2 separate regions of the Homo sapiens genome follow, and region 2 is linked to region 1. The links come from fine-mapping of genetic effects on gene expression. A gene starts in region 1. The other region holds a variant in brackets. All regions are shown on one strand. Distances are between the middles of the regions.

Region 1 (4,400 bases):
CACCATGTTGGTCAGAATGGTCTCGATCTCTGGACCTCATTATCCGCCTGCCTCGGCCACCCAAAGTGTTGGGATTACAGGCGTGAGCCACCGTGCCCAGCCTAAGAAATATGTTTTTAAAAGAACCTTTATAGCCACATTGTTTATTCTCTCTCCCAACTGTAAACAACCCAAATGTCCAATAACAATAGAAGGGATTATGGTATAGTCACACTGTAGAATATTATACAACAAAAAACTACATGCAAAAGTGTGATTGAATCTCCACAAATATGGATAATGAGCAAGGGGTGAGTCAGAAAAAAATACACATGCACTCTGAACCCATTTATATAGATTGAAATGCCTAACAATTCATTTTTTAGGAATTCATCATAGACGGAAAAATTAAAGTAAAACAAGTGAGTGCTTAGCACAAGTCAGGATAATGGTTACCTCTTGGTGGAGGAGATGGAATCACAGAAACATACTGGGAGATTCTAAGGCAGTGTTTTTCAACCAATTTTTAACTATTGTCCCTGTAAGGAACCTTTCTAGACATTTTATTCCTAATCACACCCCCCGCCATGAAAATTTAACACTACATATATACTGTATAACTGTTTATATACTGTGGCCCTTTGGAGGGACACAAATCATTGTAGTAACTAAGATTCCGACCCCGGCCCCACCAATTTTCAACCCCTTGAAATGTAAAATCACCCCTGTTAAGACTGCATGTTCTAAGTTATTGGCAATGCTTTATTTTCTAATCTAAGAGGTGGATACAGGAGTGTCTGCTTCTGTTAGTTATAATTTTTTAAAATGTATGTTTTATACACCCTTCTGTATATATACTTGACAATAAAAAATAAAAATAGAAAAATTGACTTAAATTGTGCTGAGGACTGAAAAATGGTGGTTATTTCCGTTTCAGAGCAGCTCAAATAATAACAGTAAGGAAATTAGTTAAATAAAGAAAAAACATGCAACCAAAAATTTTAAAAGCTATCTATGTCTGAAGTGAATCTAAAAGTCTCATGAAGATCAACCTCCACTAAAGGAAGCTGGCTCTAAGAAAATGTGCTGGTATCCTTTCCCTAAGAAAGAAATAAGAAGATAATGCTACTTCCACTACATGCAATTTTAGTTTACCGAAGACTATCAAGTATATATCTTAACTTCCTCGTATTAAAAACTGTGATTATATGAATATTAGAACATAAAAAACAAATGAACTGTTATTACTTTTAGTGATGCTGTTCTTCTGCCTTTGCGATCCAAAGGCAAACAAAGACAATTTTGCGTGTGGCAGAAGCGGGAACAAGCACCTGGATTTAACAACTACAGTAATGATCACTGAATCCTCCAACCACCTCTTCCTACCCCAACTCTAAACTAGGACTTCATTAGTTCTCGCCTGCTAGTTCTTTGATCTCCCTCCCAGCCTCCCATCCTTCTCCATTTAGTCTCTCCTTTTCTGCACTCCCCAGAATAGAGTCTAGCTCTTAATCCTAATCAACGGGCCTCCCACCAACTCCCTAATTTACCTGACAGCAATCTGACCTCTCAGGACACTCAACTCTGCAACCGGAGCCAACCGGAAACGGAGGTTGTCACCTCGAGTTTCTCACGGCAGGAAAGCGGAGAAGCCGCTTAACGTTCCGATACTGGGTTAGAGATTCCTGAATCAGGTAGAGACTACATGAGGGACGCTGGAAGTCGATTATTTTCCCAGTATATGTGCATCCTCAATCTGACTGAGGTAACAGATACTGTAGAAAAGAGAAGGGCGGGGAAGATAATATGTTGTCCTTGCTTGGGGACGGAATCCTTAGACACCGCACACAGGGCGGGGCTGCCGGCATACTGCAGCCAATAAGGGAGGCTGTTGTTGAGAGCGTGTTCTCACCCAATGAGAGGGTTGGTTGTTGCGCTGCAGTTGGCAGGCTGCTGCGGGAGGCGGCGGCGGTAGGAAGCCGGAGACAGCAGGGTGACAGGTAGGCGGCGGTGCTGTCTTTGGGGGAGGCAAAGTGCTAGATGAAGAGGGGTTTTCTTCTCCTTCGGCCGCGGAAACTACAGACGGGAGCTGGCGAGGGTGGTCTGGAAAGGCGGTAGCCGGTGTGTTGGTGGTCCCGGAACCTCTCGTAAACCAGGTAGCATCTTGGGAGGGTCGTGAGGAGGAGAAGGCGGCAGCCGAGGCGGGTGGAAGCCGAGCCTTGTGGGGCGACGTGGGGGCCCACCTAGGGCGTGGGGGCTGCGGTGGCGCCAGCAGAGAGGGAGGAGAGGCGGGAGCAAGGCGGTGTCGTGAGGGCTGAAGGGATTCTTTGCACAAAGCCCCAGGCGAGAAAAGGACACGGCATTGAAGACAGTTAAGAGAAATCCCAGTGATTGCTTCTTAGGGCCATTTCCTGGGGGTGGTGAGGGGGAGCGGAGAAGAAAAATATTTACTGGCGGTCAGATTCTGAACACTCATTATTGCTGTACATTATGTAATCTTTGGCTGTTATTTACCCAAACAACTAGGTTGTCCCTCCTGGGAGAGGAGGTCTTGCAACCTATTAATGTGTTAGAACACTTTTTTCATTGGCTTGAGTGCCATTTACATTGGCAGGTTCTCTAGGCGAAGGGTGGTAGCATGGAGGATAGAGTAGTCACGAAGAGCTTATCCCAATTATGGACTTGACAGATACTAGTTTGCGATGAATGTGGCCAGGTTCATGTTTTGTAGTTCGTGAATTTATTTGAGGGTCAAGGCTGACAACATTTTTTAAAGATCTTCAGAAAAGTGGGGAATCCTTTAAAAATGTACAGTAGGAGCTCAGTGTAAGTTGGAAAATGACTAGAAAATTAGTTGGTAGATCCCTTCCTCCCCCCAGGATATTGTGGAAGTTAGGGACTGTGCAAATAAGGTGGTGGTCTGAATATGGGGAAAAAAATAAACTTTTTTTTTTTTTGAGACGGAGTTTCGCTGTTGTTGCCCAGGCTGGAGTGCAATGGCGCGATCTCGGCTCACAGCAACCTTCGCCTCCCGGGTTCAAGCCATTCTCCTGCCCCAGCCTCCGGAGTAGCTGGGATTACAGGCATGCGCCACCACGCCCGACTAATTTTGTATTTTTAGTAGATACGGGGTTTCTCCATGTTGGTCAGGCTGGTCTCGAACTCCGGACGTCAGATGATCCGCCCGCCTCGGCCTCCCAAAGTGCTGGGATTACAGGCGTGAGCCACCGTGCCCGGCAGAAAAAAGTCAACTTTTAAGTAGTTTGTTCTGTAAGCAAGTCTGAGAAGCTACTTATGAATTATTTATTAGGTTTAAAAAGTGGACTCTGAACCTCTCGGACAGAGGCAAAATATATTTATAGATATAATTAACTAAATTATCTTATTTAAAAAAATTTTATAATTCATTGTTTCCACAATAAAATGTAGAATTAAAATAGGAATTCTATTCAGTATGTGTTATGGAAGGGCAAACGACATAAAAACTTGATTTTGTAGGTCATTGAAAAACAATTTTGAGAGCAGCACTGGAAAATGATTTTAAAAGAAGTGTTATAAATTTCTAAAATGTAAGGTGTTTGAAATATTGCCTTTAGCTTAGGAGATAAGGTCTAATGTAGTGTCAGCAACTCTACAATTTTCCTAAATTTATTTCGGTACTGCATGTCAGAAAAACTTTATAAGATGTGATTTTTTTCTATTAATGGTAATTTATATTCCTATATATGAACCTAAATCAAAATTTCATTTTTTCTCAAAAATTTAATTGGGAAAGAGGTGCATCATTAAAGTTGTTTGTTCCCAGATGTTCTCAGTACTGAGACATTTGTCAGTGCTTTAGATAAAAATTTTTATTGATGTTTGGTGTTTTGTTCTTTGTCTTTTCTCCTTTTCCAAGAATAATGCAATCTCAGTCACAAAGAAAATTTCTGGTTCTATTTTAGGTGGAATTCTGTAGTGTTTTGAGTACCAGTTAAATCTTTGCTTTTATGCGTGTGTGTGTGTGTGTTGCTTTTATGCGTGTGTGTGTGTGTGTGTGTGTGTGTGTGTGTGTGTGTGTGTGTGTTTCTTCTTATGTAACCAGCCTACTAGAGCTGTCTTAGAGAACTAATGGCTGATTTTGAATGGCCAGTAGGTGTCATTGTAGAATGCAGTAAGTTGAGTATCGAGTAGGAAATTACCAAGTAGCTAAAGAAACACTAGTCCAAATTAGCATATAGTGTGGTTAGATGATCGTTTATACGTTATAGAAGTTCTCTCTGATGAAACATTTCAGTATTGGAGCTGTTTATAAGGAATTTGAAACAATGATTGTAAAGGAGTTTAATTGTTTGCCCTAAAATAGACCTTGAAAGTGTGTTTTTTAGCCCGGCCCTTTAACTGTCTTGACATGCAATTCAGATTTAAGTTTGATTATTTGC
Region 2 (4,400 bases), 150 kb after region 1:
ATAGTAATAATAGTTACCAGTACTGGATTATGGAGTAGGCAGACAAGTCAACAGTAGTCTATCAAATTGCCCAGTAATAAAGCGAGAATACCAACTTTTTATTTCTTTGATATTTCTGAATATGAGCACCTGACTGGTCATAATGGAGAAAAAGCAGACTTTTCATGACTTTTACTTAAATTTTATGGTTATTTTTCATTACATATTGAACATTCTGATCCAAACAGTGAGTACTTTATATGCATTACTTCATTTGATCCTAACTAAGGTGGATAGTCAGTGGCACAAAGACTTTGATCCAGATATGCCAGCTCCAAAACTCATGCTCTTAAACATCACTGTATAATGTCTCCAGTCAAGCCCTTACAGCAGCCTAACCTAGAGGCATATCTGAATTAATAAATGCAAGCTGGTTATAGCATAAGCCAGCAAAAAATAAATTGCATAATTAGCCGGACGCAGTGGCCTACACCTGTAATACCAGCACTTTGGGAGGCCAAGGCAGGTGGGTCACTTGAGGTCAGGAGTTCGAGACCAGCCTGGCCGACATGGGGAAACCCCATCTCTACCAAAAATACAAAAATTAGCCAGGTGTGGTGGCACGCACCTGTAGTCTCAGCTACTCAAGAGGCTGAGGCCGGAGAATTGCTTGAACCCAGGAGGCAGAGGTTGCAGTGAGCTGAGATTGCACCACTGCACTCCAGCCTGCGTGACAGAGCAATCTCTGTCTCAAAAAAATAATAAAGAAATTGCATAATTAGCCTGTTGAAAGAAGCTTTTAGTAACAAACTTTACCCCCTGACAAAAGCATAAAATTATAGAATTATATTTAACAAGATGAAGTGTTGAAAAATAACAAACCTTGCTGAGAATAGATAATTAAGAGCTGGATAGATGAAAAGAAATATTGTGTTCTTGGGTGGGTAGATTAAATATTATAAGAGTAGCAATTCTTTCCAAGTTAGAAATGTGTTAGACTTGCCAGGCACAGTGGCTCAAGCCTGTAATCCCAACACTATGCGAAGCTAAGGCAGGAGGATTGCTCCAGCTGGGACCTTGAGACCAGCCTGGGCAACATAGGGAGACTACATCTCTACAAAAAATTTTAAAAATTAATTGAGTGTGGTGGTGTACACCCATAGTCTCAGCTGAGGAGGCTGAAGGGAGCCGAGATTGCGCCACTGCACTCCAGCCTGGGTGATAGAGCAAGACCCTGTCTCCAGAAAAACAGGTATTAGATCTATAAATTAGTCAAAATGTAAATGAATTTTTTTGTTTTAAATTTGAAAGAAAATTTAGTTTCCTAAAGAATAAACAGTCAGCTGGGTGTGGTAGCTCACACCTGTAATCCCAGCACTTTGGGAGGCCGAAGCGGGTGGATCACTTGAAGTCAGGAGTTCGAGACTATCCTGGTCAACATGCTGAAACCCTGTCTCTACTAAAAACACAAAAATTAGCCGGACTTGGTGGCACACACCTGTAATCCCAGCTACTTGGGAGGCTGAAGTGGGAGAATCGCTTGAACCCAGGAGGCGGAGGTTGCAGTAAGCCAAGATCACGCCACTGCACTCCAGCCTGGGTGACAGAGTGAGCCTCTGTCTCAAAAAAAAAAAAAGAAAGAAGAAAAAAGAAAAAAAGAGGGAACAAGCAAGTCTAGCAGAGACAATTTCTTTTTTGTTTTTAAAGAGCAATGAAGGGACACTTGTGGTCAAGATGGCATAATACTTCTCACTCTTTCCTTTCATCCCCTCTTGTTCCAAACACACAGCATAATAGACAGAATTTAAAAATAAATACCCTGGCTCAAAATACAAACATCTCAATACAACAGAATGATAAATCAGTGAGCAGAGTTGAAGCCACAGCACAGCTGCATTCTTGGTTTAGAAGCAGCATTGGCAGCCAGGATATTGACTTATATGGGATGATAGTAGTGTGACGATATATATTGTCCAAACCAGATATTTTCGTTTAGGACAAATGCTGAACTGAACAGATGTTTGTTGTAGAAATAAAACCATATAAAATATATAGCATTCAAATGTATATATCAGTATGAATAAAAGTTTAAAATGTGCATGGAATTAGGTCTTTTTAGGTACTAAAAATAATAAAAAAAAATTAGGTACCAACCCTGGAGAAGAATAAAGGGGAATAGATAGAGGAGAGTGTACACAGGGACTTTGGGGATATCTTTTTTTTTTTTAACCCCCCC[T/CT]AGCAATTTATTTTCCATTTATTTTTCTTTTACCTGTGTGTTTGTGGTGGAGGGATTAACTTTTTGTTGTGAGATGATTATAGATTCAGAAGAAGCTACAAAAATACATGCAGGGAAGTCTCATGTACCCTCCTCCCAAAGCACCAACTTCCACCAACCACCACCATCTCATATAAACACAGTACAGTATCAGAACCAAGAAATTGACATTGTTATAATCCCATCCATATTTGGATTTCACTATTATACATGCTGCACTCGTGTGTGTAAGTTCTGTGCAGTTTTGTCACTTGTAGCCTTGTATGACTGCCACCTCCATGTATACACTCAGCTGTACCATCACCACAAGACTCAAATGTTAACCCTCAAATGCTAATTTTAATGAATGTTGTTACTCTGTAAAGCTGATTTGAACACTGAAGATGAGATTAGCATTCAACTCGGCCAGGCATAGTGGCTCACCCCTATAATTCTACTACTTTGGGAGCCTGAGGAGGGAAGATTGCATGAGGCCAGGAGTTTGAGACGAACCTGGGCAACGTAGACCCCATCTCTACAAAAAGTAAAAATAAAGCCTTGCATTAATATTGGAATATGCAGGCTGGGCGCGGTGGCTCATGCTTGTAATCTCAGCACTTTGAGAGGCTGAAGCAGGCAGATCGTTTGAGGTCAGGAGTTCGAGACCAGCCTGGCCAACATGGTGAAACCGCATCTCTACTAAAAATTAAAAAATCAGCTGGGCATGGTGGTGCATGCCTGTAATCCCAACTACTTGGGAGGCTGAGGAGGGAGAATCGCTTGAACCCAGGAGGTAAAGGTTGCATTGAGCTAAGATCACACCACTGCACTCCAGCCTGTGCAACAGAGTGAGACTCTGTCTCAAAAAAAAAAAAAAAAAAAGGTGGGGCACAGTGGCTCACACCTGTAATCCCAGCACTTTGTGAGGCCAAGGCGGGCAGATCACGAGGTCAGGAGATCAAGACCATCCTGGCTAACATGGTGAAATCCCATCTCTACTAAAAAATTAGCCGGGCGTGGTGGCGGGCACCTGAGGTCCCAGCTGCTCAGGAGGCAGAGGCAGGAGAATGGCGTGAACCCAGGAGGCGGAGCTTGCAGTGAGCCGAGATCGCACCACTGCACTCCAGCCTGGGCGACAGAGCGAGACTCCGTCTCAAATAAAATAAAATAAAATAAAAAAATTGAAATAGGCATTAAATGGTTATCTAATGAAATTTTTTGATGGAATTGGGGACAAAGTCTTCATTCTGTTTTGTTATTACTAATAATAAAAGTCCTTAACTGCTGAAGGACTGTTGGAAGTTGCTGTGTGTAAAGTTGAGGGTCCATGCAGTGTGAGAACTCAAAACGTTAAATATGGCACTGGCTACGCTGATGCAAGTTTTTTTTTTGAGATGGAGACTCATGGTGTCGCCAAGGCTGGAGTGCAGTGGCAAGATCTCGGCTCACTGCAACCTCCCTCTCTGGGGTTTAAGGAATTTTCATGCCTCAGCATCCCACAAGTAGCGGGGACTAGAGGCATGCACCACCACACCTGGCTAATTTTTGTATTTTTAGTAGAGATGGAGTTTCACCATGTTGGGCAGGCTGGTCTTGAACTCTTGACCTCAAGTGATCCACCCACCTTGACCTCCCAAAGTGCTGGGATTACAGGCATGAGCCACCATGCCCAGTCTAATGCAAGTATTTTTTAGTTTGGCATGCCTAAATGTCTGTGTGCTAGCCTCAGCATTTTCTTATTTAAACTATTTTGAAATTTTGCTTGATTCTGCAAACTCCAGTATCATTTAGACTTTACTTGGTATGTGATTGAATAAAAATTTTAACCAAAATTCAGCTCTGGAGTTAGTAGTAGTACCTAGTTAAAAAGTAGTCATTGAGGGCCGGATGCGGTGGCTCACTCCTATAATCCTAGCACTTTGGGAGGCTGAAGTGGGCGGATCACTTGACGCCAGGAGTTCAGGACCAGCCTGGCCAACATGGTAAAACGTTGTGTCTACTAAAAATATAAAAAATTAGCTGGGCGTGGTGGTGTCCACCTGTAATCGCAACTACTCAGGAGTCTGAGGCATGAAAATCGCTTGAACCTGGGAGGCCAAGGTTGCAGTGAGCCAAGATCGCACCACTGCACTCCAACCTGGGCAACAGCGAGATTCTGTCTCAAAAA

Evidence for each region. PIP is the estimated chance that this variant, and not a neighbour inherited with it, causes the effect. A credible set is the group of variants that fine-mapping cannot tell apart.
Region 2: its variant is the best candidate, but not a certain one, in a credible set for the expression of HYCC2 in whole blood (INTERVAL, PIP 0.55).

Annotation. Positions count from the first base shown.
Region 1 is chr2:201,069,189-201,073,588 of GRCh38, reverse strand. It overlaps HYCC2 (hyccin PI4KA lipid kinase complex subunit 2), which reads left to right and starts at 1,918. Exons shown (of 13, transcript NM_001321623.1): 1 at 1,918-1,979. NDUFB3 (NADH:ubiquinone oxidoreductase subunit B3) reads right to left here and starts at 1,588. Exons shown (of 3, transcript NM_002491.3): 1 at 1,530-1,588. RefSeq lists enhancers at 1,066-1,689, 1,826-1,915, 1,936-2,205, 1,690-2,315, 2,306-2,445.
Region 2 is chr2:200,915,709-200,920,108 of GRCh38, reverse strand. All of the region lies in intron 15 of ORC2 (origin recognition complex subunit 2), which reads left to right. Among named protein-coding and RNA genes, the nearest start is that of NIF3L1, 29 kb to the right of the region's middle. The variant T/CT (reference allele first, on the strand shown) is at 2,216.